7 linked regions of the Homo sapiens genome follow. The protein of the gene in region 3 purifies or fractionates together with the protein of the main gene of each other region. This does not show direct contact. Each region holds a gene or a part of one and is shown on either strand. Other genes may lie near its edges.

Region 1 (4,718 bases), on a different chromosome or scaffold from region 3:
TTGCCCTAGTTTTAATCATTTAAAAATTTTTTATAATTTTTAAATGATAACAATTATGATGCAACCATGACTTTGAGAAGCCAAGAGATCTTATTCTCAAATTGTAAATGAATCCGTAAGAGCTAAGAGAGAAGAAACAGGCTATTAAATGGCCAAAGATCAAATCTGAAATGTCCAGGAGTTTTCCTGTAGGGGTCACTGTTACTGTCAATTTATGCCTGCAAGAAAACTAAAATAGTCACACATTAAAGCATGTATGCACATTTTTAATGTCTGATTCCTCTACATTTCTTAAACTGTAAAATAATAAGAACATGCAGCCAGATAGCATCGCGATACCAACTTCTTTATATAATGACACGTACCATTCCACTCAATGTGCTCCTCAGTTTGAATTTATAAAATATATGCTACTCAAATGAAAGGCACTTATGCCTGCTCTTAGTAGAGGAAGCGCTAGCTAATTGCCTAACGCCCCATTAGCATATGGCCTATACTGACTTGAGAAGGAAAGAACGTTCATTGCTGTGGCCAATAGGATCCCCTCTCCCCACCTTCCCTTTTCTGCATCAAAATCTACACAGACAAAAGTCAGATGTTGTAATATGCATTTTATCGTGTCACTTAAGTACTAAGAGGTGCTTTTAAAGTTTTTATTAATGCTGCTCAAACTTGACCCCGACGGTCCAGGATACAGGCCAAGGTGTCAGTGCGGACACAATCGCAAGGCGGCTGTTAGGCTTCAGGGCTGGGCAGGAAACTTGCCAGGTGCTACTAGGAACGTATCAGCCCTTTCTACAAAGCAGGTGTCTTTCCCATCATAAAATGCAAAGCAATCAGCCGTTCCCTTTCTCCCCAGCCCCCTCGTCCGGAGACCGAGAGGATATTTACCCTGGGCTCTTGCAGTTCTCTTATAACTGAACCCAGCGGCGGCTCCTTCTCCGAGCTCAGAGCCAGCAGGCTCAGGCCCAGCCACACTTTACAGGCAAATTGCCGAGCTGACCAAGGGCTTTGGCCAAGCCCGAGCTGGGCCGGGGCGTCCGGGAAGCGGAAGGAGCCAGTCTAGGAAATCCGGGTGTGCGTGGTGGTGAAGCTGGTGGGCAAGCTTCCACTTCAGGTCCGGGGCTTTGTGTCCCGCAACAGACGCTTGGCGCCGCTCCTCTTCCAGCCTGCTGCCGCCTTCTCCGAGCGAGTGAGTTGGCGAAACTCACTCACCTGTCGGAACCCGGTGCCTGGCGGCCAGACGCGCAGATTACAGCAAACCTTGGCCGGGACGCCCCAGCCAGGGAGGCAAGTGTGGGAGCTGCTCCTAGAGGTGCCAGCTCCCACCCCCAGCTCCGCGCCCCCTGCTCGTCCCCTTTCACTTCCAGGCGCCTTCGGCTTGGGGTGCCCAGAAGGGCAAGTCCAGCAGACGCCAGGGCTGCAGGTTCAAGATGCTCCGCCTCCTCCTGCCACTTAGAGCCACAAACGCTAGCGGGAACCTTTCCACTCAGTCTTAGTCTGCGGTCACTGCTGAGGTTTTCAGAACTTTCCAGGCAAAGGCCAGCCAGGTCCTTTGCCTCCAACCCACTCCGCGCCTACCTCCCGCCTGGGGACACCCCTAGGCCCAGGAGATCCTACTCTCCCCCGAGCACCGACGTTCCAACTCGTCTGCGCCCCCGACTGCTGTCCGGCTCCTGTGCCAAGGGGCGCGCGCATCTTCCCGGGGCCAGCAACGCTCCCAACTTCTCGACTCGCCCTCCTCCTCCCCAGAGCGAGAGTGGGGCGGGCTGAGCCCGGATCCGGGGTGCACTCGAGCGTTCCCAGCGCTCGGCATTCACCCCGCCTCAGAGCCGACTTTCGAAGGGGGATTGAGCCTCGGAGGTCCAGGCGTCTTACTCCAAAGCTCAAGTCGGCCCCCGTCTTTTCTTTCCACACCCCTGTGCCCGTCGCATGCTGGCCGGGTGAGCGGCCGGGCCGAGGATTCGGGTGCCCGGGGCCGCGTCGCCCCGTCGGGTACTGAGCTGAGCGCACCATGGCCGGCTGCTGCTGCCTGTCCGCGGAGGAGAAGGAGTCGCAGCGCATCAGCGCGGAGATCGAGCGACAGCTTCGTCGGGACAAGAAGGACGCGCGCCGTGAGCTTAAGCTGCTGCTGCTGGGTGAGTGGCTGCGTCTCCGACTCCAGTGAGCCGGGCGTTTTTCTTCCGAGCCCTCCCGGCCTCTCCACTGGCACCCGCGCGGCCCTGGAGCCCAGCGGGGTGCAGGGCGGCTTCGTCCTTCTCCCCCTCGGAGCTCACGGATGCCAGCAACTTGGGGCCTTAGGTGCCTGTTCTTTCCATCTCTGGCTGGGCGACTTGCAAAAGCAACACCTTCCCCTGCCCCAAAACAGGATAGGGACCTGTAACACTTAACCTCTTGACCGCTGTACCTTATGTGTTCCGGTGTGCCCCTCTCCTCAAAACCCCGTCCACTCCTCCGCCCGCAGCACACCCAGCTTGGGGTCTGTGGTGACCCACATCTTGGGTTCAGCGCTAGCTCTGACCCGTACGCTTTCAGTTCTAGATGAAGCATCTTGAGAATTTACCATGTGCCAGATCGTGCTAAGTTCTTAAGGGCATCACCACCTGGTGATGCGGGCAGGTGATATCGCTATTCTAGAGAATTAAAACATGGAGGCCTGGAGAACTGACCAACTTGCCCTGATTGAGAAAAGGCAAAGCCGATGCTAGGTCAGCTGTGGGGGTGAAGCCCATGCCGTTGCTGCTCCTCTGACCGTGAGCTCCTATGCCTGCCTCCCATGGGGGTCCCTCAGGCCTTTGTGTTTGCAGCGGACCCAAACCTCCCTTGCCCAGCTTGACTCAGTGTGTCCACGTCCTAGGATTCAGCTTGGCTGCCCTGGTGCCTCTGGCAGGTCTTCATCCAGCTCTTTTGGTGTCTCTGCAAAGGTCTGGGTAGGACATCCACTTTCAAACACAGAAAGAACACAGTTTAAGGTTTGCCCAAGTTATGCCATGAGGCAAGGATCCCATCTCAGACTTTCTAGAACGCTGTCAACACATTTGCTGTTTGAGGAATATTTTACCTTTTCTACCTTTCAGACCATGATATCAGCTGTCAATTTTTTTCTAGATAGCCACAAAGATTTCAACTTTTTTTCTTTCACCCCTTTTGAACAGGAATCTTCTCTTATACCATCTATTTATTCATCTTTATTCCTTGTATAGGAATCACCCTCCCAGAAAGCTTCAAGGAAAGAAAAAGTTGATCTAGTTAGTGTAATATAGAGAAGGCTCTCAGCCAGTATGGCCTTCAGACCTGGGCGGAAGAACCCCCTTATCCTTATCCCCTGGGTTTAAAGGGCCCAGTCTGGCCTTCTGGGGGTTGGGGGGGGGTGTGCCCCTCCCCACAGAGCTGGAAGTCTGTAGGTCCAAAGGGGCTTGCTACCCAGAGACCATGCTGCCCCCTCCCTCCCAAGACCTGGATGGAATGAATACCCAGCCCAAAGGGACCCATACCAGCTTCTAAGGCCTGAGCCCTAGAAAAGAAGGCAGACCTGATCCCTGGAGAGCTCACAAAGGGGCAGCTGTTTGCTGGGGCGTAAAAGTGCTTGGAAATGTGGGCTGGGTAGGAGTGGAGGGAGTCCCCGTGGGTGCCCAAGAGGCCCCCCTAGGAGAGAGGGAGCTTGGGTGGGGAAGGGAAGGGGCTCTGTTCATTGGCCAGGTCTGCTATTTCTGTGTCTGACCCATAACTTTGAAAAGTCTGAAAATTCTAAATTGTCCCTGGCCTTCTAGGCTGTTATAAAGCTACCTTTGTCAAGGGAGGAGGAATACGTGAGAATTTGCTAGCTTGATTAACACTAGAAAATAACTATGGGTGCGGGGCTTTGTACTTTTGCCCTGAACCCCACAAACCAGAGGGGTTTAGTTGCGTATGTAACTTTTTTCTTTATAAGGGCAGGCTGAACCCTATTTCATTTTGCAATGCTTTGATTTGTGTCAATGTATGAAGTACAGTGTCCAGAATATACCAGGAGCTTGACAAATGCTGGCTCTTTGTATGAAAAATTGTGTAGTCAGCTGAGCTGTACTGTATTGGTAATAAGCCTGTTTGATGTAAAATTCTCGCATTTACCCACAAACTAGGGGAGAAATGTTTGTAGGTAAATTGTTTGCTCTGAAAGTCACATTAATCAGGGTGACCCGAGGGTCTTCTTTATCTTCCCAGGCCATTGCTCCAACCCTCCTCCTACCACCTTGAGGCACTGTCTGACCTCTGGAAACTCCCATTTTCATCTTGCGGAGTTGTGACTAGCATATCCCCTTAGTGAAAACTTTCCTGTGAAAAATAGTTTCTAAACCACACAGAGCCGTTCAGAACTCCAAGGATGGACTTCAAAACCTCTGATTTATTTCAATCTGTAAAGTCCTGGGGCATAGCTCCATTTCTTCTCAAGGAAGAGCCAATGACTCAGAAGTGACAGGAATTAGGGGAGGATGTGCACCATTTTGTCTGAAGTCATGCAATTCGAGTGAAAAATTCACCCATCTCTCTAGTGGGTAGATTAGAGCATCCACTGCTCAGGTGCCTCAGTTAAAAACCTCACTTTGCAAATGGGAGTTTGGAATCCTTTTGTGGAGTATGGGATGACCCCCAAAGACACCATCTCTTTCACAATGAAGCATGCTTTTGCAAAAAAATGATGTGAGGATGTTTCTGAAGTGCAGTATCCTGTTTCTGCT
Region 2 (4,133 bases), on a different chromosome or scaffold from region 3:
AGTCTGAAAGCTGAAGAACATGGAGTCCGATATTCGAGGGCAGGAAGCATCCAGCATGGGAGACAGATGAAGGCCAGAAAGCTCAGCAAGTCTGCTCTTTCCACCTTCTTCTGCCTGCTTTATTCTAGCTGTGCTGATAGCTGATTAGATGGGGCCCACCCAGATTAAGTGTGGGTCTGCCTCTCCCAGTCCACTGACTCAAATGTTAATCTCCTTTGTCAGCACCCTCACAGACACAGCCAGGAATAATACTTTGCATTCTTCAGTTCAATCAAGTAGACGCTCAGTATTAACCATCACAGATGGGAAGCCAATGGGAGCAGAGTTAGAGATGCATGTGACTCTTTTTGGAGCTAGGCTGGTGTGTTTGAGGCTTCCTAATTAATTTAGTCCATTGCTTGCATTAGCGCACAGTTTGACTTAACCTGCCGTGCAGACACCAACTTAAAAGGTGTATGGCTTAAAAAAGAAAATGTTTCTCGAAGTCTACCAGTTTTAAAATTCATAAAATGTGAGGTTGGATTAATGTGATCTGTAAAATCTTTTTCAGAACTGGCACCTTGTAATTTACAGGAACTGTTAAAGATGGGTGGAATAGATTCCAAAGCTAAGATTTGAAACTTAAACTAAATTTGAAATTTAAGATTGGAATTTGAGGCCCGGTGCAGTGGCTCATGCCTGTAATCCTAGCACTTTGGGCAATCAAGGTGGGAGGATTGCTTAAGCCCAGGAGTTGGAGAGCAGCCTGGGCAACATGGTGAAACCCCATCTCAAGAAAAAATACAAAAATTAACCAGGCATGGTGGTATGCACCTGTATTCCGAGCTACTCAGGAGGCTGAGGTGTGAGGATCACTTGAGCCCAGGAGGCAGAGGTTGCAGTGAGCCGAGATTGCATCACTGCACTCCAGCTTGGGCAACGAAGTGAGACTGTATCTGAAACAAAAAAAAAAAAAAAAAAAGATTTGAATTTTATGATTTTTTTGCCCTCCTTTCTCTGTTTTTGAAAATTTTTTTAAACCCATTTTCTCTTCAGGAATATTACTGTATTTTAATTAGGTATTAGACAACATTTTTGTAGCAATACTATCACACCAATACAAACCTATCTTCTTTTTTTCTCTAGGCCCTGCAGGAGCAGCCAAAGATGTGTAAGTATTGAATATTAATGATTTTATAAGCTGTCTTTCTGAGGAAGTTGCTGTTTTTCATGATTATGACCTTTAGATCTCTGTGGGTATGGCTGAAAAGACATGGAAATACTTTGTGTATAATGCACATGTCAAGATGATCGTTGTAACTAAAGTGCTATTCAGAGAGGGTTCTTTGTGCTTTTCATTAGCTTTTCAGTTGCCTGGGCACTTTAACTCAGGATCTTAAGAAGGGGAAATGTTGAATTGTGTTTTCCATCCCAACTGGTATAGAGATTTTTTTTTTCTTTTAGTTAAAAGCAAGTGATTATAGGAGAAATAAGCATGTAGCTCCTATGACTACGCAGTGTTTTAGAGTTAGCTGGGGAGGAAAGGCTGGGGCCAAGCAGTTACCAAGTGTACATTGAATTGTTTTAAAGTTGATAACTAGATATTCGAATGAATATATAGGGCCATTCAACATAGTCACCATTGAGCTATCTTTAGAGCACAGGGCATTTAATAATGGGCATCTCCCTGTGGAGAGATCTGGAGCTCAGGAGCATTCAGGATTTCCATGCCCCTTCTCTCTGCATCCTCCTGCCTCTAATCTAGCTATAGCAAGGACACTACAGCAGTTCACTCTTTAAGAGTATTTCTGGTTACCCAGTGAAGGGTGGGATCAACTCTCCCACCCAAAACTGGGTTGGGTGTCAAGACTGATTCACCACATCTCAGGAGGGTGTGGAAAGATGTATTGCTCACATGAGGCTTTCTGGGGAGAGCAGGGCAGCCATCCAAACGGGTCTAGTTTTTATTTTGGTTGGAGAGTGGGCTGGGGTGAGGCTACTTATGAATGGGCAGAGGTTTGATCTTCCTGCTGGCACAGGGAAGAAGTGCCCCCACTTTCTTATTGGCTTACACAGATGTGGGGCAAAAGGGGAGTGATGGGGCTCAAAAGCCTTCAATGGTCAAATACCAAAAATAGGGCCAGGTATGGTGGCGCATGCCTGTAATCCCAGCACTTTGGGAGGCTGAGGCGGGTGGATCACTTGAGGTCAGGAGTTCAAGACCAACCTGGCCAACATGGTGAAACCCTGTCTCTACTAAAAATACAAAAAATTAGCCAGGCATGGTGGTGGGCCCCTGTAATCCCAGCTACTTGGGAGGCTGAGGCAGGAGGATTGCTTGAACTGGGAAGGTGGAGGTTGCAGTGAGCCGAGATCACACCACTGCACTCCAGCCTGGGTGACAGAGCCAGACTCTGTCTCAAAAAAAAGAAAAAAAAGAGTCAGACTTTCTTATTTCTTATTACAAAGAATTTAGAGAAGATGAGAATGGGATTGTAAAGCTTTCTGGGAATTAAATATTTAAATATGCATTTTAAAATTAGGACTTTAGATACAAAGGAAGCAGTAATTGATGGCTTCTAGCTCCTGTTTGCTGTGTTGGAGTTTATTACGTAAACATTTAGCAACAGTGAATACTGCACCCTGACCGTATTCCTATTATTGCAATATTTTGGTTTCTCCTTCAGTCTCTCCCTTCAATTTCTATATGTGTTGCCAGATTAATTTTCCTCAAGCACTGCCCTGCACTTGCATAGGACCTCTGCTCAAAACCTTTCAATTATTCCCATCGTCCTCTGGACTGAACCCAGGATTTATTAGGAATAGGAAGAGCATTTATGTTTTAGCCTCAAACCGACTGGCTCGCATGGCGTGGGAGGAGATGCTACAGTGGAGAGTGAGCAGAGCCCAGGGCTGGGAGGGCTGTGCAGAGCTTCTTCAGGCCACTGTTCTCAGGGGCTTCTGCGACCTCATGCTTCTTGCTCCTGTCCTTGTGTTTTGCTGTGCCCACTGCCTGGAGTGGCCCTTTCCCTTTCCCTTTCTGTTTATAGAAATGACATCTGTTCTGTAGGGCATGTGTGTTATCCTTTGTGAGAAGTATTTCCTGGCTCTCTGAGCTGCATAGTGTGTCTTTCTCCTCAGAACCTTCACAGCATTTTGGACCTTTCTTGTGGGGCATCGTGTTGGGTTTATATCGTAGTTCTTCATGTTCTTGTCTTTTTTCCCTTGAGGATTGAGAGTGGGGCAATACCTTACCCATTTTATTGTGCTCTAGAGTTATTCATGTCATGCTTTGATCATAGTTTGTGTTGAATAAATAGTTGTTGAATCAGTTCCATCATTGCTTTTCAAGGACAGAGTGATTTCATGACATCTTTCTTTTTCTAATAAAATTTAGTGATGATTTTGTCAACAGAATTAACCGTTCCAGGATGCGAGATGCCATTTAACTACTTAACTATTTCACTATTTAGAATCCTGAATTCTTCAGATTTCCCTTGACTATACCTCATTCTATGTCCTATAACTTTAAAATAAAGTAATTTATTAAATAAATGACCTTTTAAAAACAAATGCAGTGGATTTACCTGGAAAAAGTTAAAGAACATTATAATATTACTTTTCCTTACACAAAAGGTATATTCAGGCACGTTCAATTTTTTAAGTGGAAGCTATAGATTTATAAATCTTGACTGTAATATTAGGTGATGCCATGAATGAATGACGAGCTAAGAAATTAAGATGACACTTAATTTTTTTATTATGCACATTAAAATTTTTTTTTAAAATCTAAACAGACTGATTCCCAAACCAGAAGGATTGGCCAAAATAGTAGAATAAGTACTGAGAGTAAAGAACTTAGAATAGGGCAAACACAATATTATGCAGACCACAGGAAAGTCTTTGTGGGAAAATGGTTGTTATTTTTGGAAGCCAGAAATACTATATATTTAAAAAATCAATTCTCTAGGAAAGGTCTGCAATTTTTACTACTCGTTTTTCTTATTTATTTGCTGTTTTCTATAGGTGAGAAGTCAGTATATAATAATAAATAAAATGATGTATCTGTCCTGAAGTAGTTCACTGTCTACTAGGGACCAAAATACAGTGTGGTAAGTGCTAATTATTCCAGTGTTCAGAATTTAATGCTGGTC
Region 3 (4,133 bases):
TAAGGAACATGAAGCATTCTAAACAAATGTAGGTTATAAATGGGTTTGTCGCGTAGGCCCTGGAAGCCTCGTTTCCTTGGAGTACCTCAGTTATGTCGTTTGTCCGGGGAAATGGGAAAGACCTGAGGAGGGGCTGAGGAGCAAGGGAGCATCTGGAGCCACAGCCCATAGAAAACCAATAAAAGAAGCTCAAACAGCAGAAGAAAGCATGCGATTCTAGTGCCAGGAAGCATAGGGAGCTGGTACGTTGAGTGCTGAGTGGCTTCCTGGTGGCGAGCTTGCTGTCCACATATAATCCAAGGCAGGAAGACTTTCTGAACAAGGTCCTTAGAGTCCCCCGCTCCACATGGATTGGGCGATGAACCCGGAGATCTGAAACTGCCCTCACACATGTGCTTCTCTTGGCCCCGCAGCCTGGCCGGGGTCTCCAGGAGCGTGACACTGGTGATCGCATACATCATGACCGTCACTGACTTTGGCTGGGAGGATGCCCTGCACACCGTGCGTGCTGGGAGATCCTGTGCCAACCCCAACGTGGGCTTCCAGAGACAGCTCCAGGAGTTTGAGAAGCATGAGGTCCATCAGGTAAGCAGTTCTTAGGGGACATCAGAGATGCAGGCAGGTGCCCCTGAACGGTGCCCACAGTCTTTCCGTACACAGCCAGCATCATGGCGTTTGGAGTTGAAAGGCCCACAGAGGACATCGGCTCCCAGGGCGCCCAGCTGCACCCCTTCAGAAGTCGTCACGATCCCTCGTGCACCTGTTGAAGCCACAGGCGCCTACCCTTTGTCATTCTCCTTGTGCCTGGTACTCCCTACTAGTTTGTTTCTCTCCCTTTGGGTGACGTACCATTTCCTTGGTCTGGCCTATTTTCATGTCCTAGGCCAGCACCTTGAAGGAGCAGTTCCTTCTCTTGCTTGACCCTGGCTGGCCAACCACAGAGCTCTGATTTCCCACTGCTGTTTGTTTCCCTGGTTATGTGTGGCACCATCTCTGTGGTGAAGTCACAGGTGCAAGCCCACGTGGATGCAGACGTGCACATGTGTGTGACGTTTCGGGTTTGTTTCCATCCTCTCCAGTATCGGCAGTGGCTGAAGGAAGAATATGGAGAGAGCCCTTTGCAGGATGCAGAAGAAGCCAAAAACATTCTGGGTAAATATAAGGAGCAAGGGCGCACAGAGCCCCAGCCCGGCGCCAGGCGGTGGAGCAGTTTTCCGGCACTGGCTCCGCTGACCTACGATAATTATACGACGGAGACCTAACGCAAGCGACCTGCTGCCTTCCTTCCCACTGCTTGTCTTCAGTGTGCCCGGCTGGGCAGGGGTGCGGTGGTGGTGGCCGATGAGGACAGGAAAGGGAGATAGCCAGGGCGAGGTGGGGCGAGGGCTCCTTCCCCCAAGCAACACCGCCCAGCCCTGCTCCAGGCCCCTGCACTCCGCCCACCCCTACCCTGGCTGCACCTGAGCTTGCTGCCCCTGGGGATGTTGCCCAGTGGCTGTGCACTGCTCTGTGCACGTGCGTGTGTGTGAGTGCACTTGTGTGTGGGTGACTAAGTGGATGCATGTGTGTGCCTGTGTGAGTGAGGGTATGTGCACCTAAGTGTGTACATGTGTGTATGTTGTGAAAGTGTCTGTGCACATGAATGTTTGTGTGTGTGTGAACTCTTTCTTACTGCTGGAAGTCACAGAATTCATATTGCTGCCCGGGTTGGTGTGGCCACCTTTCCCTTTGTCCAAGACTCCACATGGAAGGCATTTGAGCTCGACCTCCGAAAAGCTACCCAGCAAAGAGCAGTCTGTGCCTCTGAGCAGACCGTGAGAACTCAGGGGACGAGTGGCTAAGAGCATGGCCTCTCCCAGAACCCACCCAGGGTGGTGTGGTGGGGGCAACAGGGGCCAGACTCCTCTAGAGGGAGGGTGGCTCTGGGGCCCTGGAAAACGTGAGAGACTGCCCTGAGCTGGTCCAGTGGGCCAGCACTTTATACCAACTCAGCATTTAAGGGAAGTATCTTAGATTGCCTCCATCTCAATGTGAATGCACCAGGCTGAGGGTTCCCTAGCGCCTTGAGTCAAGGCCACTTTTCAGCCCATCGAGCCCTGAGTTCTACTTGGTGTTTGTTCTCTGGAGCTGATTGCACTTGAGCTCTGTGGTGGGCAGGCGCACTTTAGCCTAAGTTGGGTGCCCCAGGGCACCCCCTCCTCTCTGCTCCTTGCCAGCTTCATTCACTCCCAGCCTCTCGCTGTCCTCACTTTGCAGGGGCTCCTCCTCAACATTTGCATGCACCTGCAAGAATTGGGAAGAAAGAGCATTTATTAGGCACTGTAGCAATTTGCATTTTAAAATGCCTGAGCATTTATTAAGCTTCTTGGTATTCACTTGGGTTTGATAATTGATCTGAGCTACCTCATTGAATGTTTTTGGAAAGGTGTTTTTTGGTATGCAAGTCAGCTTTGCCTCACAGTTGAAAATGTTCGGTCATGATTGCTTTTGAAACCAAAGGGGAAGGTACCGATATCATTGAGCTATTTAAAGTTGCCAGTTTGGGCTCCAGTAATGCTTTCTGGTGGGTAAAATTCCACATTCAGGCCACGAGAGCATCTACAGTTTGTACTCTGGGGCTGCAGGCATCCTGGGACGCTGTACGCAATTCAGTGGTCTAGTCCTTTATACCGACTCAGATTCCTTAAGCATGCAGAGTCACTCGAATGAAAAAACATACTCGACCTCTCCCTAAAAAGATGTTGCAACCCAGTTTCTCTGAATTCCACCACAAAAAGAGACCCTGAATAAGAAGAGCAGTTTTCCTGTGCATATAGAGGGTGTGTCAAAGGTGAGCTTTTTGGGGACCGGGAAAAACAAAGTTGCCTGATTCCGCGCAGGTGCACAGGCCCCGGATGTACACCCGGAAAGGGGAGTGTGGCTGTAGAATCATCCATCCGTCTACAGCTAAAACAATTTGCCAATAAAGTACATGTTTTTCCTAAGCCAAAAATAAATACGTTAACAGAAAAATGATTTAGGATATAGCTTGAATGCTTAAATATGTGCACCTTTACAAACCTCTCAGTGTATTCTTGGAGTTCTTGAAATGTTGTTTTAATATTTGTTGCCAGTAATGTTCTTTCTTCACAGCCGCTCCGGGAATTCTGAAGTTCTGGGCCTTTCTCAGAAGACTGTAATGTACCTGAAGTTTCTGAAATATTGCAAACCCACAGAGTTTAGGCTGGTGCTGCCAAAAAGAAAAGCAACATAGAGTTTAAGTATCCAGTAGTGATTTGTAAACTTGTTTTTCATTTGAAGCTGAATATATACGTAGTCATGTTTATGTTGAGAACTAAGGATATTCTTTAGCAAGAGAAAATATTTTCCCCTTATCCCCACTGCTGTGGAGGTTTCTGTACCTCGCTTGGATGCCTGTAAGGATCCCGGGAGCCTTGCCGCACTGCCTTGTGGGTGGCTTGGCGCTCGTGATTGCTTCCTGTGAACGCCTCCCAAGGACGAGCCCAGTGTAGTTGTGTGGCGTGAACTCTGCCCGTGTGTTCTCAAATTCCCCAGCTTGGGAAATAGCCCTTGGTGTGGGTTTTATCTCTGGTTTGTGTTCTCCGTGGTGGAATTGACCGAAAGCTCTATGTTTTCGTTAATAAAGGGCAACTTAGCCAAGTTTAAGGTCGCGTGCGATGCATTCTTCCCTAGCCAAGGGGCAGTCACCACGCGCCCTTCTGCCTGTGAGGGATTCCAAGGCAAGACTGAAGCCTACTCCTGGTTTTATTTTAGAGGCTATTGTTTGCCTCCAGAAGGCGCTATAGCAGATGCTACAAAAGGTGAATTCATGTCTCCAAGAAAGAAAAATAGGCCATGAGTGTGAGGCGAAGGAAATGTGGACATGAGAGTTAGTTCTGTTTTGCCTGCACGGTGGGAGCGGCGTATTCGGCACCTGGAACGAGTTGTGTTTGCCCAGGAGCATGCAGCCAGCCGCGCCGTGTGCATCTGCCGCACAGCATTGAACACAGCTACTCTCATTCCATCTTCAGCTTTTAATCTGAGGGAACGTCACCTGAATTGACGAGAAATTTAAGTCAATTTGTAAAATTTTCCTTCTCTGATCTGGTGGAGGAAAAGGGAAATTTAACGCT
Region 4 (4,133 bases), on a different chromosome or scaffold from region 3:
AAAGGGCATTTTAGGAGTTTGATAGGAAAAGGAGTTTAGCATAACTCCTTGATATCTGACTTATGTAACAAGATAAATTTCAGGGAAATAGCCTAGAGAGCACCAATCTGTGTGCAAAACTAATTAGTTCCACTTGAGATAAGTTAGAGGTACTTGCAAAGAATGGATCAAACCTGTTTTGATAACTAGAAGACATTAACTCAAAACTCAACACAAATTTGGTATTATAAATATAGCCAATGCAGGCCGGGCGCGGTGGCTCATGCCTGTAATCCCAGCACTTTGGGAGGCCAAGGCGGCAGGGATCACCTGAGGTCAGGAGTTCGAGACCAGCCTGACCAACGTGGAGAAACCCTGTCTCTACTAAAAACACAAAATTAGTCAGGCGTGGTGGCACATGCCTGCAATCCCAGCTACTAGGGAGGCTGAGGCAGGAGAATCACTTGAACCTGGGAGGCAGAGGTTGCGGTGAGCTGAGATTGTGCCATTGCACTCCAACCTGGGCAACAAGAGTGAAACTCCATCTCAAAAAACAAAACAAAACCAAAAAAAGCCAATGCAATTCAGGATATAATAACAAAAAAGTATGATATCCACAGGAGTAATGTATGAATACTTAATTTGTAGGCAATAGTTATCACATTCAAAGTCAATATTTGCAAGATGAAGCATAACTAGAAGAGGGAGACTAGAACAATAAAAAGCCATATCAAATGGGAAACTTAGTGTTTTGAGTTACTGGAACCAAAACTTCATCAAAGTCTGTTATACATACAAATGCCTTGTGTCTGTAGCTTTTGAGAAAATTGAAGAAAAAAGCCACAATACTATATTTGAATTAGCTTAGAGCATGTTTAGTAGTTAAGAGAATTTGAAATGCTTGCTTGGAGATGTTAAAGAAATATACCTTATGTCTCAACACATATAGGCAGTCATGGCTACTTACCTCTTACTGGTCTATTCATGCAGAAATTATTCAAAACTGGCAAGAGCTGCTTTTGTCTTCTAAGAACATAGCATAATGCTTATCAGTGAAAATAAAAAGTCAAACATTTGGAGAAAGGGAAAATTCAAAGTTCATGTCCATTTTCCTGGGGTACAAAGGATAGACAGAATTTTTATGATAGTATTATTTCTTTAGGAAAAAACAGGATACTAATTACATCATTTTTCCTTTATAGAAAATCCACCTATAAATCCAGGGATTGTATGAACACACCAAACAACCTTTGGTTCTGTTGCTCTTCTGAATCCCAATGTGATTAAAATGTTCCTGAGGTTTCCCTAACCACCAACTCAGGTTCTAAGTATTTAGGATGTAGTAAAGATAAAATTTTGTTAAAGAGACAGCTAAAGCTAATTTTTACATAGAAAAAAATGTATATTTATATCCCTAAAAGGCAATACAGAATTTATAACCAAACCATGTGTGAGAACTGTTAAATTACATTCCAAATACCAGCAGTGGAACAAACAGAAACACAGAGATGTTTTAAAAAACATGCAGCACGTTACAAAGAGGCCGTGTAATAATTCACAACTTTTGTTAGCAGCCGTTAAGTTTGATTAGTATTAAGCAGCAATGGTTTAAGCAATTTTAAATCATGATATGATAGTTACATATATGCATTTTACTGTTCCAATTATAGTTTAGTAATAGGTCAGGGGTTTGAGCAACATTTTAAGCATTATAATTTTCTCCTAAATTATTTACTATGGGAAATTGGCTTCCACTTAAGGTTTTCATAGAAACTGATGGTTATTTTATGAGGGAGATGTCTGGACGTATGTGTGTATGTGCATGTGTGTGTGTGTATATACACACACATATATAAATTAGAATTTGCAGATATTATGTGTATATATATACACACATATATAATATATATATTATATATATATATAATTTTTTAGTCATGTTTTTAGTCATTTGCTTTTTTTTTTAGTCATTTACCGGTTTCTCATAAGACATCCAGTCACTTCTTTTCCCTTGCCCTTTCCTAACACTGTTCCTAACATTTGGGTACCACCCCTTAGCTCCTGCGACCCATGTGGTTTTGGAGAAAGCTGATCACACTCACGGTGACAGGCCATGGTTGGAAGTAACATGTTCCACTTTTCACGAAAAGTAATAGATCTGAATATCATTCATGGTTAACAATAGATAGTGTGACATTTGGGTATGACCTGCTGGTAGAAATAGGGCATGATTCCCTGGAAGTAAGTCACTTACACCAACCCAAGTTCTAATTCTTTAAGATGTAGTAAAGACAAAATTGTTCTTGCTATATTAAAATGGAAGAAAGGATTTGCAGAGTTCAAGGATGATATGCTCTAGCTCTATATGCACTCCGCTATCAATCATTCCTTTTACTTTCTGCCTTGAAAAAATCATTTTAATAAAATCAAAAATTTTCATTCTAAAATATAGTTCAATGATTTCACTACCCTTTATGAACAAAAACAGCACGAATCCTCTAAAGAAGAAAATTGAGCCAAATTGTTATGTTTTGCCTAGATATTCACACAATATTTCACACCATAATAGAAAAAATAATTTTTCCATGAGAAGTCAAGAGACCTGTATTATATAATAGTTCAAACTTTTAAAAATTAACATGTACAATACACTGCAGTATAACATAATTTTTGTTGGAGGGGTAGATGAAGATAGTGGCTCAGTTTCCTTTGTGTAAAGCAAGTGAACTTGGTCGATTTAACTTAAAATTTCTATTAGCACTTAATATCTGCAAATTTTAATTTAGGGCTCAACATGTGGCCTTGCCATTTAAAAGAGCTATCAGCCTTAATAGCTAACACAAATTCTTTTATTTCAGTGTATTATATAGGAGAAACAAAAAATGCTATAAAATTCATGTTTCTAATGAACAAAAATGTTAAGGTTTATGACTATGCATTGTATAGAATTACCTAATATTTTTATATCTGAAGTAGACCTTTTGTAAGTACAGTACCTACATGTTTTTTTCATACATTCATACTTGCCTTCGCAGTTTCACATCTGTATAAATCTTATGATCGTTCTCTAATAAGTACACAAGATTAACACTACTTATGAAATATGGACAAATATATTACTACTCATTATAACCCATCCAGATTATTAGTTTAACTCATTCAATTACTACAAAGATCCTTACAGAGCTGAATTTAATATACAATAGAACATCACTGCCCTCTGATGGTATCACTAATATATAATTTTAAATTCAGCAAACAAAAAATCCTTTATCATAAAGTAAAACAGGGTATGTTAATTTTATAAGCTACATAAATAAAAATAAATTGGAAAAAATTTTACATCTGCCTAAGAATACTCATTACTAAGTTATAAAAATTTACAGTGCTCCTTCACATCAGCCCTTCAAATGATTTTTTCAAGATTCTCCCTGATGATCAGTTTAAAGGCACTAAGTCCATAAGTTTAATCAAACATCTTCATAGTGAAATAAAAACAGATGTAACGCGATGCAGCACAAATATAAGTAGTTAGATCATTTTATAAAGGATGAAAAGACAACTGCGAATTTTAATCTTAGAGGTATATGCAGAATGTTTACATGCAGTGTATGTATATTCACTATTTAGTTCCATTTTTTAACTACTAAGAAAAATAGCAAATCACCCACTAACTGCAGAAGAGCAAATGTAGGAAAATCAGTATTTAATGAAAAGTCTAGCCATTCTCTAAGCTTGAAAATCAACGTTTTTTTAGCATTGCACTTAAGGGCAATAATATTACAAAGTCTGAATCTTCATTTACTCAAAGAGAAGAAATTAAATTGATGAAGCCCACTTGATTGCAGATAATAAACAGTTATTGGCAGTAGATTCTTCTACTCATGTTATGCTTTATGAAACTGTCCACTAGAAAAGATAAAAAAGAGACAGAAAAGTAAATTTTACTTGAAGTTATATAACAGTACTTCAGTGAACAAACAGGTAAAAAGAGGAATATGGGACATAGAAATACAAAATGATTTTTCTGAATAGCAGCTATTCATAAAATTTTACATTATAGTCCAAAGCCTGAAATAAGATGATAGTTTAAAAGCATAAAGAAGACAAAATATCTGGTCAGATTGGTGGGTAGTTGCAGGATAGCTCTGTCT
Region 5 (3,074 bases), on a different chromosome or scaffold from region 3:
TCATTAAAACCATCGATGACCGAAAGTGACCAAGACCAAGGCCCACCAAGGCAGCAGACTGTTAATCAGACAAACAGATCTCTGAGAAGGTGCATCAGCTGCTTTGAAGGCTGAAGATTGTTTTGTATGATACTGCACAGCATCAGGCATTTTAAAGCAGATCTTTACTAAACAGGTTAATGAGCTAACAAGCAGGTTCTCTCGTCTTTGGGCTCTTTCCTTTCTGAGTTGCATATTCTATTTTCTTGTCCCCAAGTAGAGACTAGTACTACAAAAAGGGACCACATTTTTCAAGTATTTCTAAGTATAAAAAACAAAACAAAAATCTCTTAGGAAATGTCTAGACCTCCATTCTTGGATTCCCTTTCTTTCCTTTTATTTTAAAAAAGAACAGTACCCCTCTTTTAAGATGCTGTCTTACATTAATGAGCATCTAATGGAAAGAAGGTATGAGTTGCACTGAGGATTAGAATAGTGGTGCGTTAGTGGCATTATCTATAAATACACTCACCTAAATTGAAAGCTAAGAAGGAAATGTAAATATAATATATATTTATATTTGATGTAATATGGACATCTGCAGATTCTAATAAACAAGGACTATTGCTGATAGTAGGCTGTGACATACTGTCTTGTGAAATGGTTTCCTTGACAAAATTTAAGCTGAGCTTAAAAGCAAAAAACAAAAAGTACACAGAAATATTTATTAAAATGTAATACAGTTTATTGAACTTTCTAGGTATGGAGTTTGATGGACAGGGCTGCCTTTAATGAGTGTGAAGGTCACTAAGTCACTTAGACATCTCACCGTGGAAGTTTGTGAGCCTGCATTAGGAGATAGACTGATTACCATACATGACATAAAAAGGAACAGTGGATAGCTCATACTTTATGGTGGTTCTTCTCCTCCGAAATAATATACTGCAGAAATCCCAGACAGAGCTCCTTACAAACCTTTAATTGTAATATATTTTTGATGATTATTCACATTGAATGCACAGACCAAGAATTCAGTGAATGTCATTTTTTAAAAAACTAATTTGTATTGTCTGCTCTAGTGATACAAGTTTTACTAGTGATAAACTATTTTAATCAACCATACTATTCTTATGGAAAAAAATATCTATTTTGGCAGGTTTCTGTGCCTTTATTTCCCTCTTCTGAAAAAAAGTCTGTGTTTTCATAGTTTGGTTTGCATTGTATATCAATAATTAATCAGGAATGGGTTTTGGTGCCTGAAAAATTGGCCATGGAGGCACACCAAAGCTTCAAGCACAAGTCTTGTACATGGGCCATCACTGTCTGGTTTCACTTCGTGTGTTTCCTAAACACATTTAGCTGCTTTTTTAACAAACTCAGCCCCATACTTGAGTCCCTTGTTGTTGGGAGCATTTCCAGGCATCTTTTAAGGGAACTGTGACAAACAGCCTCGGGCAGATGAACACGGAGGCTCTCTGTTGTCTGTCTCTGAGATCTTTGTGTCTGGGAATGCCTAAAGATTTTATTTTTTTTTCTTTGTTTTTATTTTATTTTATTTTATTTTTTTGAGACAGAGTCTCACCCTGTTGCCCAGGCTGGAGTGCAATGGTGCGATCTTGGCTCACTGCAACCTCCACCTCCCAGTTCAAGTGATTCCCCTGCCTCAGCCTCGCGAGTAGCTAGGACTACAGGCGCATGTCACCAAGCCCGGCTAATTTTTGTATTTTTAGTAGAAACGGGGTTTCACCATGTTGGCCAGGATGATCCTCAATCTCCTGACCTCGTGATCCACCCGCCTTGGCCTCCCAAAGTGCGGGATTACAAGCGTGAACCACCCTGCCCAGCCAGAAACTAGATTTTCTTTATGCCTCCACCCCTTCTTATTCATTTACTTTACAATACCAAAATAACAAATTGCATAGGAGTGTGGGATGTGGTTTCTGCCTTCTAGAGAGAGATCAGAATTAAACTAGTACTATGAAATGTCCTTTTGAATGTTAGGTCAAGAAATCCATGTACAGAGTCGTGCACTTCATTGGCTGTAACTGTCAAACTTGCCTTGTATTAGAAGTTAAATCCCATCGTAAATACATCACGAGGCCAGCTGTGTGATTTCTGAGACCTAGATGAGAGTCCATTTACTTCAGCCTTTGATTCAGTAAATGTTAAGCAGCAGAAGACTTCGAATGGTTGAAATTCATTGTTACAGGATTTAACTCATAAACCAATGAGAGATTTTTTTTTTCTCTGCAATGGTTGCTAAGTCTATTCCATGTTAACACTGTGGAAATAAATATGAAGATGTGGACATTGCATCGGGGCTCTTTTCTGTGGAAGAGAAGGTGGTGGGATTGGGGTGAAGGGCTACACTGGAGGCAGGAGATAGGGCTGTGCTGTGTTGGAGCCGGGGCTGAGGGTAGACCCCCCAGAGATTTGACATCTGTGACACCTGTGAAATGGGTTCGGGTGCTCATGACTCCATAGCTGGCGGAGGAGCACAGCACAGCTGTTGCAGGGGCAGCTAAGGTTTCCTCTGAAAATCTGTCAGGAGCAAGGACTACTTTGGCATTAACCATCACTGTTTGATTTCTTGACAGGTATGTGAGATGGGGAGTGATTTGATTTTTTTTTTTTTTTTTAATAGAAAAGAGGAATAGTTGTTCCCCAAATGTTTCTTCCTCCACTGCCTTCCAGTACTTTCTTTACATGAAAGATTAGTGTAAAAGTACAAAATCAGCCCAGGAAACATTCAGCAGCCACTAGTTACTACATAGAATTTATAAAGTGGATGTTAAATGGAGAGAGAGTTGGCTCAGGTCCCCTGAAATCTTGTAGGATTAACTTCTCTGAGGAAAAGAAAAATCAGGTTTGCATTTTGTATTAATATTCTGCTTTTAGAAGTAATAGAAATACAAGTTGAAGATTGTCTTTACTTACAAAATTATATTTTAATTTTTTTTGAGACATAGTCTTGCTCTGTCACCCAGTCTGGAGTGCAGTGCTGTGATCTCGGCTCACTGTAACCACCATCTCCCAGTCTCTAGTGATTCTCATGGCTCAGCCTCCCTGGTTGCTCAGATTACAAGTGTATGCCA
Region 6 (4,133 bases), on a different chromosome or scaffold from region 3:
TTATTTGAGCTCTTCCAGATAATTTCATCTTAGAGTGTCAGATAAATGATTGTTCAAGCTGTTCATATTTAATTTTTATTTTAGAACTAGTGGTGACCAGATGGATCCATTGACCAGCCCTTAATTTAAGCTACCAAGTACACTGTATTTGTTTAAATCTTCTGTGAGAATGAGAAGCAGAATTCTTTTCTTTTGAATACTTTTTCACCAGCTCAAAGCCATAAAATGATGTATCTTTGAGAACGTTTTTGCACATTTTTAAAAATTTTCATTCAGTACACAGTAAGCAAGAGCTATTACAAAGAAATGTAGTCTCTTGCCAAATAAATGTGTTACTTTGACCTAATTGTTTTGTGTTCCCTAGTACGAACAAAATAAAATAAATGGAATTGCAGAAAACCCATAAGAATTACAGTGTTTGGCTGGGTGCAGTGGCTCACGCCTGTAATCCCAGCACTTTGGGAGGCTGAGGTGGGAGGATCACCTGAGGTCAGGAGTTCAAGACCAGCCTGGCCAACATGGTGAAACCCCGTCTCTACTAAAAATAAAAATTAAAAAAAAAAATAGCTGGGCGTGGTGACAGGTGCCTGTAATCCCAGCTACTTGGGAGGCTGAGGCAGGAGAATCACTTGAACCCAGGAGGCAGAGGTTGCAGTGAGCCGAGACCACACCATTGCGCTCCAGCCTGGGCAACAAAAGTGAAACTCCGTCTCAAAAAATAAAATAAAATTACAGTGCTGTATACTCTTTTCTCTTTAGAGAAGTAGAGGTGTATTATTGGCCTTCTGTTGCACTGGTAATAGTGGATTACTTACTTATTTGATTGCTTGTTTCTACCTGCATACATGGAATTCAATTTTAAGTGTAGGGCGAGGTTTGTTGCCTAAACAATAAGTAAGTAGCAATAGAAATTTATGAGATGTTTGTGGGGAATAAACAATTGCATGTATTCCTATTTAGTAAATGTTGCTGCACTGAGTTATCCAGAAAAAAAAAAAATGTGATTGCTAAAGAGAATTTTTTTTCTTTCTTTTTTTTTTTTTTTTTTTTTTAATAAGACAGAGTCTTGCTCTCTTGCTATGGCAGCGATCATAGCTTAGTGCAGCCTCAACCTCTTGGGCTTAAGGGATCTTCCTACCTCAGCCTCCCAAGTAGCTAGGACTACACGCACACCAGCAAGCCAGTTAATTTTTAATTTTTTTTGTAGAGACGGGGTCTCTGTGTTGCATAGGCTGGTCTCAAACTCCAGGCCCCAACCTCCCAAAGTGCTGGGATTACAGGTGTGAGCCACTGCGCCTGACCAAAAAGGAATTTTCTTTACCTGTTATTTTTTTGCTTAAGACTTTTATTCTGTGTTTTAGATTATGTGCTTTCATCCAATGTTTCCGAATTACTCATTTCTTTTGGGTTATACTGTGATTTTTTAACATCTTAGCAAATTTCTGTTTTTGAGTATTTGGTTGTAGTCAGTTAATATTGTTTAATATATTAAAATATCTCACTGCCTTCTGTTTGGCCGGCCCCCAGAAATCTAAACAGCATTTGTTATTTTTGCTGTTTTCAGTGTGATTCGTCATCGAGATGTTCGATCCTGTCACTATGGTGTAATAGACAAATTCCGTCTCCAAGTTTCCGAGCAAAGCCAAAGGAAGGCTTTGGGAAGAAAAGAGGTTGTTGCTACTCTTCTCCCATCAGCAAAAGAACAACAAAAGGAAGAAGAGGAAAAAAGATTAAAGGAACATTTAACTGAAAGTTTATTTTTTGAGCAGTCGTTTCAACCAGGTAGTTTTGGGTTGTTTTTAAAGCCCTTTTGAGGTCTTACACATTATTAACTTTAAAATAATCAGGCAGCTAAGAATAATTACTAGAAAAATCATCTACCACTTCAAACATGGTCAACTACTTCAAAACTGCACCTAGAGAATCAGGTACCTGAAGTAGAACAAGAAGCCTGGAGGTGGACTTTGAGAGGAGGGAATACCCCTCACTGGACCAGGCTGTAAGGAGCGGGTAGATGTTGCTGTAGCCTTTTAAATATATCTGTATTTAAACATAAACATAAATATATCTAAGACTGCAGGCACCATACTTTATGAAGCTAGTACAATTTGGCAGTTCCTATACTTTTGTTTCCATGACTTTCCTATATCCTTTCTCATTTAATTAGTTCCAAGGAAGAGAGAGATTGTGTTTGGCAATAGGCCAAGCTTAGTGCACTGTTCATATTATTTTGAAAAAAAAAAAAATCTCATTAAAGTTGAAGTTAATTAAACTAAGTAGATTATGATATCCCCTGTGGGCTATTAATTGAATCCCTCTCCAGCCCTCATTTCCTTCCAGCTTAGATATTCAGAAGTGTTATGATATATTCTTTCAACATTGACACTACCCTCATATTCAACTCTTTGGACGTCATTATCCCGTCTTCTTAACTTCTCATTATCTCCTCCTAAACCTGTTGTAATAGGAGGATGATAAAATTTTCCATAGAAAACCAGGGAAACTGGAAACTTTTTGATGGTGATACTGGTACATGAATATGATAGCAGCTGTCCTTGAAATTGCAACATTTTATGAAGGATTAAAAAAAATCTACTTGCTGTTACATTCAGTCGTATCAGTTTGTTTGTTTTAGGATGTTCATTTCAATAACAGGGAGTAGTGCCTCTTTGATTTACTGTAGCCAAGAGTTTTTTCCTAGTCCATTAGGGACCATCTAGATTTTCTGGTAATACCAGGACTAGTGACTAGGTAGTAGCTATTAGGTTGGTGCAAAAGCAATTGCGATTTTTGCCATTACTTTTAATTGCAAAATCCGCAATTACTTTTGCACCAACCTATAGTGGATTGTTTTATTCTCAGCAACTATTATCAACTGACAGGACCAGCTTTTCATCTTTTGAAGCTGAAAGAGAACCTTTGTCCAGTGTCACTTTATCAGATCAATATTGTAAAGTTAACATAGTTATGAAATGCAAGATTCCCTTTTTAAAATACTTCCTCTAGTACAAAGAAGGCCATTTAATTTGTATTTGTTTTTTGAAGTTACACTTGTAATTTAAAATGGTCTTTGAAGTTCAGTTTTGTATTTAACAGATTGGTTTAATAACCAAGAATAATAAGGAGTAAGATTTAGGGGTATATGTGTATGTAAATATATGTAAGGAGAACTTTATTCCTTTTATTTTTAAATTTATTAAAATTCAGGTGAAGATCATGCTAAAAAGGCTAAATAATTAAAGTATGTATTGTCTTATTTTATTTTTTATTTTTTGAGAAAGGGTTTCTCTCTATCGCCCAGGCTAGAGTGCAGTGGTGCCATCATAGTTCTCTGCAGCCTCCAACTCCTGGATTCAAGTAATCCTCCTGCCTCAGCCTCCCGAGTAGCTGGGACTACAGGTGCTCGTCACCACACCCAGGGTCTCGCTATGTTGCCCAGGCTCGTCTTACCTAGCCTCAAGCAATCCTCCTGCCTCAGCCTCCTAAAGTACTGGGATTACAGGCCTGAGCTCCCGCACCTGGCCTTATTTTAGTTTTCTAACAAACCTTGGTATCTAAAGTATATTAAAGAATTTTTCTAATAGTAAAATTGGAGTAGGCAGATGAATGAGGATAGGTGATGCTAGCATAACACATGGTGATCTCTGTTTTGAGGGAAAAAATTATCTAATCCATTCCTGTAAGGAAGCTCAATGAAGGCAGGCACTTTTCCTAGTAATTTTATATCCTCAGCACCTAGCACAGGGCCTGGCACAGAGAAGTTACATAATGAACTTGTAAATGGGCTGAGCTAGGAAGGCTGGACTTCAGGTCTGGTGAGGGTCTGTGGGAATGGTTTTTTTGTTTTGTTTTGTTTTGGCTTACAAGGTTTTCATGGCTATGACAGCTGTTTAGAGGAAAGGTGATACCACAGCAGAGCCCCATTCACAGTCCTGGCCAACATGTCCCGTTTATGGGTAGTTACCCCAATGTGCCTAATTACCTGGAAGTAAGTTGAGTAAAGTTTTCTTCTTTAATAGAGTATCATGATGACTGATTTAGTCTCCTGTCTATTAAATTTACAGGAATTTATGTGTAGTTTCCAACATGTGGAAAACTCAGGTTTTTAAGTTTTTCTGAACTAAAATGTTGAA
Region 7 (4,133 bases), on a different chromosome or scaffold from region 3:
AATTCTCATGCCTCAGCCCCCCAAGTAGCTGGGACTACAGGCGCAAGCCACCACTCCTGGCCAATTTTTGTATTTTTAGTAGAGATGGGGTTTCACCATGTCGGTCGGGTTGGTCTTGAACTCCTGGCCTCAAGTGATCTGCCTACCTCGGGCTCTCCAAGTGCTGGGATTACAGGCATGAGCCACTGCCCCTGGCCCAACTTTCTGTTAATCTTTATTGGATACTTTTTCACTGTGCTGACCCCATGTGAATACTATTCAGGAGGTATGACAGTACCATTATGGTTATAGCTGTGGACACTATTCTTTTATGCTCTGTACTCATAGCTCTTCACCTTTAGGAACTAGAGTAGATGTAAAGCATTTAAGAATTTTAAGGTTTGAGCTATTTCATGATCAACCTGAAAGGGCCATAACTTGTAGGTAATACGTATTTTTGTTTTGACTGTCATGTGGTAGAAGTTACCTGAAAAATGAAGCCAACCAACTCTTTTGCATTTCAACTGTTGGTTTATTTTTTTTGAGACGGAATTTCACTACGTGGCCCAGGTTGGAGTGCAGTGGTGTGATCTAGGTTGACTGCAACCTCTACTTCCCAGGTTCAGGCAGTTCTCCTGCCTCAGCCTCCTGAGTAGCTGGGATTACAGGCCCACACCACCAATCCCAGTGAACTTTTGTATTTTTAGTAGAGACAGGGTTTTGCCATCTTGGCCAGGCTGGTCTCAGACTCCTGACCTCAAGTGATCCACCTGCCTCGGCCTCCCAAAGTGCTGGAATTATAGGCGTGAACCTCCACGCCTGGCCTCAACTGTTTAATTTTTCACTTTACTGTTTATATCTCCTAACATGAGTTATTGTTCTGAAGCACTCAAAATTTTAATCTCTATTTGATTGTGTTCGAAGGTGGATATCATATGTTACACTCTTGATTTGTGGATTCTGGATTCATTAAGAATATCAAGATTTCTTCTGTAATTTGTGTGGTTCTTCCTAAATACAATAACTTGATTTACGAATTCCTGTTGCGCTGTGTGCGGTGGCTTGCATCTGTAATCCCAGCACTTTGGGAAGCTGAGGTGGGCAGATCGCTTGAGTCCAGGAGTTTGAGACCAGCCTGGCCAACATAGCAAAACCCCGTCTTTACAAAAAATACGAAAATTAACCGGGCATGGTGGCACACACCTGTAGTCCCAGCTACTGAGAAGGCTGAAATGGGAGAATTGCTTGAACTGAAGAGGCGGAGGTTACAGTGAGCCGAGACTGCACCACCACACTCCAGCCTGGGTGACAGTGAGAACCCTGTCTCAAAAACAAAACAAAACAAAGAATCCCTGTTGCCTCACCATACTTCATGCATCCTACCCCTATAGCACTTCTGATGAAATTGCGTGCCGTAGATTTAGCAATTTAGAGAATTCTAGCTTGTTTGTATGGGTTTAAAGTTTGCATGACATTTATGTTTCTATTGTTGGTCTAAAGTTAGCCCAGAGATTAGCAGGGAGCAGTAGGCTCAGAGAGTTGTCTTCCTTCTTTACTTGGTACTGCATCTCTAGGCTTGGTAGCTCTTCAGTAAATACTCTCAAAAAATACTTATTTTTAAGAAGACATTTATGTGATATTTATAAACAAATTAATCCTCAGTGGTTAGAATATGCAGTGAAATAGCAAGCAGACAATCCTTTTTTTCTCTTCTGAGAAAAGTGCTTCATACCACAGTTACAATTTTGTATGCACTAATCAAAAAATGTGTTATAAACTCTAAAGTTTAGATGATGGAACTGTACATGAAAATAACATTCCTCTTGCTGGTTCTGTGATTTTTGTACATTAGCTTAGAACAGTGGTCCTCAAAGAGCGTTCCCACTTCCAGAAGTAGCTGCATTAACTAGGAACTTGTTAAAATGTAGAATCCCGTGTTGAATCAAAACATTTGGGTGGGACCAACAATCTAGGTTTTAATAAGTTTTCCAGATGATTCTAATGGCATGTTACGTTTGAGTAGTTGATTTTACATTGGTACTAACATTGATTCACCCATACATGGAATAATTGGGGGGTTTTTTTGAGGTGTGGTGTTTGTCAGATTTTTAAAAACATTGTTGACTGGGCGCGGTAGCTCATACCTGTAATCCCAACACTTTGGGAGGCTGAGGCGGGCGGATCACGAGGTCAGGAGTTCGAGACCAGCTTGCCAATGTGATGAAACCCTGTCTCTGCTAAAAATACAAAAATTAGCCAGGCATGGTGGCGTGCGCCTGTAGTCCCAGCTACTTGGGAGGCTGAGGCAGGAGATTCGCTTGAACCCAGGAGGCGGAGGAGGTTGTTGCAATGAGCCGAGATCATGCCATTGCACTCCAGCCTGGGTGTCTCAGCGAGACTCCGTCTTAAAAAAAAAATTGTTCATGCAACTAACCTAGTTTGAGAATTACATGTATTATGTACTGCTCACATTACATGTTATCTGTATCTCTTTATAGGAGAATGCCTTCCTGTTAGCCACCTGCCAGACATCTTTAGGAAAGTATGATCCCTCTGTCCAATCAAGAGTATTCTGCTTTTTCTCTACTTAGGGAGTACCCATAGTTTTCAGTCATCTGTACCACTGCTGCTCTCCTTTCTTGTCACAAATGATCAAGGCCTGATAATACACAAAATTAATTAAGAAATTTAGTGTAGGCCGGGCGCAGTGGCTCATGCCTGTAATCCCAGCACTTTGGGAGGGTGCCAGCACACTGGCAGATCACGAGGTCAGGAGTTCGAGACCAGCCTGGCCAACATGGTAAAAATACCAGAATTAGCTAGGCGTGGTGGTGGGTGCCTATAACCCCAGCTACTCAGGATGCTGAGGCAGGAGAAACATTTGAACCCAGGAAGCGGAGGTTGCAGTGAGCCGAGATCGCGCCATTGCACTCCAGCCTGGGCGACAGGGCGAGACTCCGTCTCAAAAAAAAGGAAATTTAGTGCAATTATTAACTCTTAAGTGAAGTGCTGTTTCTACTTACATATTTAACATCCATCTAAATTGGTTAGCATGGCCAACTAGTTGTTTTTAGTCTAAAACAACCTGTAACAGGAATAAAAGTTACTGTTAAAATGAAGAAAAACAAGGCTTATTTCAAAGTTATTATTAACATACTATTTTACCTAACAATTTATGGCCAAGTCATTCTAAAGAATAAACTATTGTGGTTAAGAGAGACTGTATCCAGATTGAAGTTTTTACCACAATGCCTGGCACAGTAAAAGGTTTATTAAATTATAGCTATTACAGTTACCATCACCACTGTTAACTTTTGGCTGAATCGTTTTGTCATTGTTGATATTTTTGTTGTTTGGTCATGACATACTATTATCTTGAGATGGTAGCTGTTACACCTAGTGCATAGCGTTTGATTTAGAAAATTTGAAGATTTGAAAAATTTTGTGTTTTTTTTCCTTTTTTTTTTTTTTTTTAAACAGCCTGCTCTGTTGCCCAGGCTGGTGTACAGTGGTGGCATCAAAGCTCACTGCAGCCTTGACGTGGCCTCAAGTGGTCCTCCCAGGTAGCTGGGACTGACTATAGGCATGCACCCCACACTTGGCTAATTTTTTATTTTTTTGTAGGGACAGATCTCACTGTTGGTGCCTAAGCTGGTCTCAAACTCCTGGGCTACAGCAGTCCTCCCACCTCAGCCTCCCAAGGTGCTGGGATGAAAGGTGTAAGCCACTGTGCCCAGCCCAACTGTGTTATTTGTGGAAGTTTCTCAGAGGGAGAAATTACAGGGCTAAAGTACTACACGTGTGCATATATTAAAGTTTTTTCCAGTAACTACTTAATAATGTGTACTTGAAAACTGCTAAATTCTTAAATGTCCTCACCATTAAAAAATAGTAAGTGCCGGGTGCATGGCTCATGCCTGTAATCCCAACACTTTGGGAGGCCAAAGTGGTCAGATCGCTTGAGACCAGCCTGGCCAACATGGCCAAACCCCATCCTTACTAAAAAAAAAAAAAAAAGCAAACATTAGCTGGGCGTGGTCGCGCATGCCTGTAATTCCAGCTACTCGGGAGGCTGAGGCATGAGTATTGCTTGAACCTGGGAGGCAGAGGTTGCAGTGAGCCCAGATAGCGCCACTGCATTCCAGCCTGAGCAA

The links.
Region 1: the proteins of DUSP22 (region 3) and GNA14 purify together in Homo sapiens (affinity purification with mass spectrometry; 2 studies listed by BioGRID and IntAct, with this or other methods). This does not show direct contact.
Region 2: the proteins of DUSP22 (region 3) and C12orf75 purify together in Homo sapiens (affinity purification with mass spectrometry; 2 studies listed by BioGRID and IntAct, with this or other methods). This does not show direct contact.
Region 4: the proteins of DUSP22 (region 3) and SVIP purify together in Homo sapiens (affinity purification with mass spectrometry; 2 studies listed by BioGRID and IntAct, with this or other methods). This does not show direct contact.
Region 5: the proteins of DUSP22 (region 3) and GAPVD1 purify together in Homo sapiens (affinity purification with mass spectrometry, with the first as the bait; one large-scale study listed by BioGRID). This does not show direct contact.
Region 6: the proteins of DUSP22 (region 3) and MOSPD1 purify together in Homo sapiens (affinity purification with mass spectrometry, with the first as the bait; one large-scale study listed by BioGRID). This does not show direct contact.
Region 7: the proteins of DUSP22 (region 3) and RAB5A purify together in Homo sapiens (affinity purification with mass spectrometry, with the first as the bait; one large-scale study listed by BioGRID). This does not show direct contact.

What each region holds. Positions count from the first base shown.
Region 1 is NC_000009.12:77,645,090-77,649,807, reverse strand, and holds the start of GNA14 (guanine nucleotide-binding protein subunit alpha-14), read left to right. Parts: upstream 1-1,485; 5' UTR 1,486-2,014; coding exon 2,015-2,138; intron 2,139-4,718. UniProt on the Homo sapiens protein: Guanine nucleotide-binding proteins (G proteins) are involved as modulators or transducers in various transmembrane signaling systems.
Region 2 is NC_000012.12:105,347,477-105,351,609, forward strand, and holds part of C12orf75 (overexpressed in colon carcinoma 1 protein), read left to right. Parts: intron 1-1,125; coding exon 1,126-1,150; intron 1,151-4,133.
Region 3 is NC_000006.12:347,690-351,822, forward strand, and holds the end of DUSP22 (dual specificity protein phosphatase 22), read left to right. Parts: intron 1-413; coding exon 414-585; intron 586-1,079; coding exon 1,080-1,262; 3' UTR 1,263-3,132; coding exon of another isoform or gene 3,133-3,179; 3' UTR 3,180-3,666; downstream 3,667-4,133. UniProt on the Homo sapiens protein: Dual specificity phosphatase; can dephosphorylate both phosphotyrosine and phosphoserine or phosphothreonine residues. Activates the JNK signaling pathway.
Region 4 is NC_000011.10:22,819,246-22,823,378, forward strand, and holds part of SVIP (small VCP/p97-interacting protein), read right to left. Parts: intron 3,889-4,133; coding exon 3,874-3,888; coding exon of another isoform or gene 3,867-3,873; 3' UTR 1,092-3,866; coding exon of another isoform or gene 1,071-1,091; 3' UTR 1-1,070. UniProt on the Homo sapiens protein: Negative regulator of the ER-associated degradation pathway (ERAD) of misfolded proteins. It competes with AMFR/gp78 for binding VCP/p97, and inhibits AMFR/gp78-VCP/p97 complex formation that is required for degradation of ERAD substrates.
Region 5 is NC_000009.12:125,362,718-125,365,791, forward strand, and holds part of GAPVD1 (GTPase-activating protein and VPS9 domain-containing protein 1), read left to right. Parts: coding exon 1-29; 3' UTR 30-3,074. UniProt on the Homo sapiens protein: Acts both as a GTPase-activating protein (GAP) and a guanine nucleotide exchange factor (GEF), and participates in various processes such as endocytosis, insulin receptor internalization or LC2A4/GLUT4 trafficking.
Region 6 is NC_000023.11:134,894,466-134,898,598, reverse strand, and holds part of MOSPD1 (motile sperm domain-containing protein 1), read left to right. Parts: intron 1-1,564; coding exon 1,565-1,782; intron 1,783-4,133. UniProt on the Homo sapiens protein: Plays a role in differentiation and/or proliferation of mesenchymal stem cells. Proposed to be involved in epithelial-to-mesenchymal transition (EMT).
Region 7 is NC_000003.12:19,953,511-19,957,643, forward strand, and holds part of RAB5A (ras-related protein Rab-5A), read left to right. Parts: intron 1-4,133. UniProt on the Homo sapiens protein: The small GTPases Rab are key regulators of intracellular membrane trafficking, from the formation of transport vesicles to their fusion with membranes.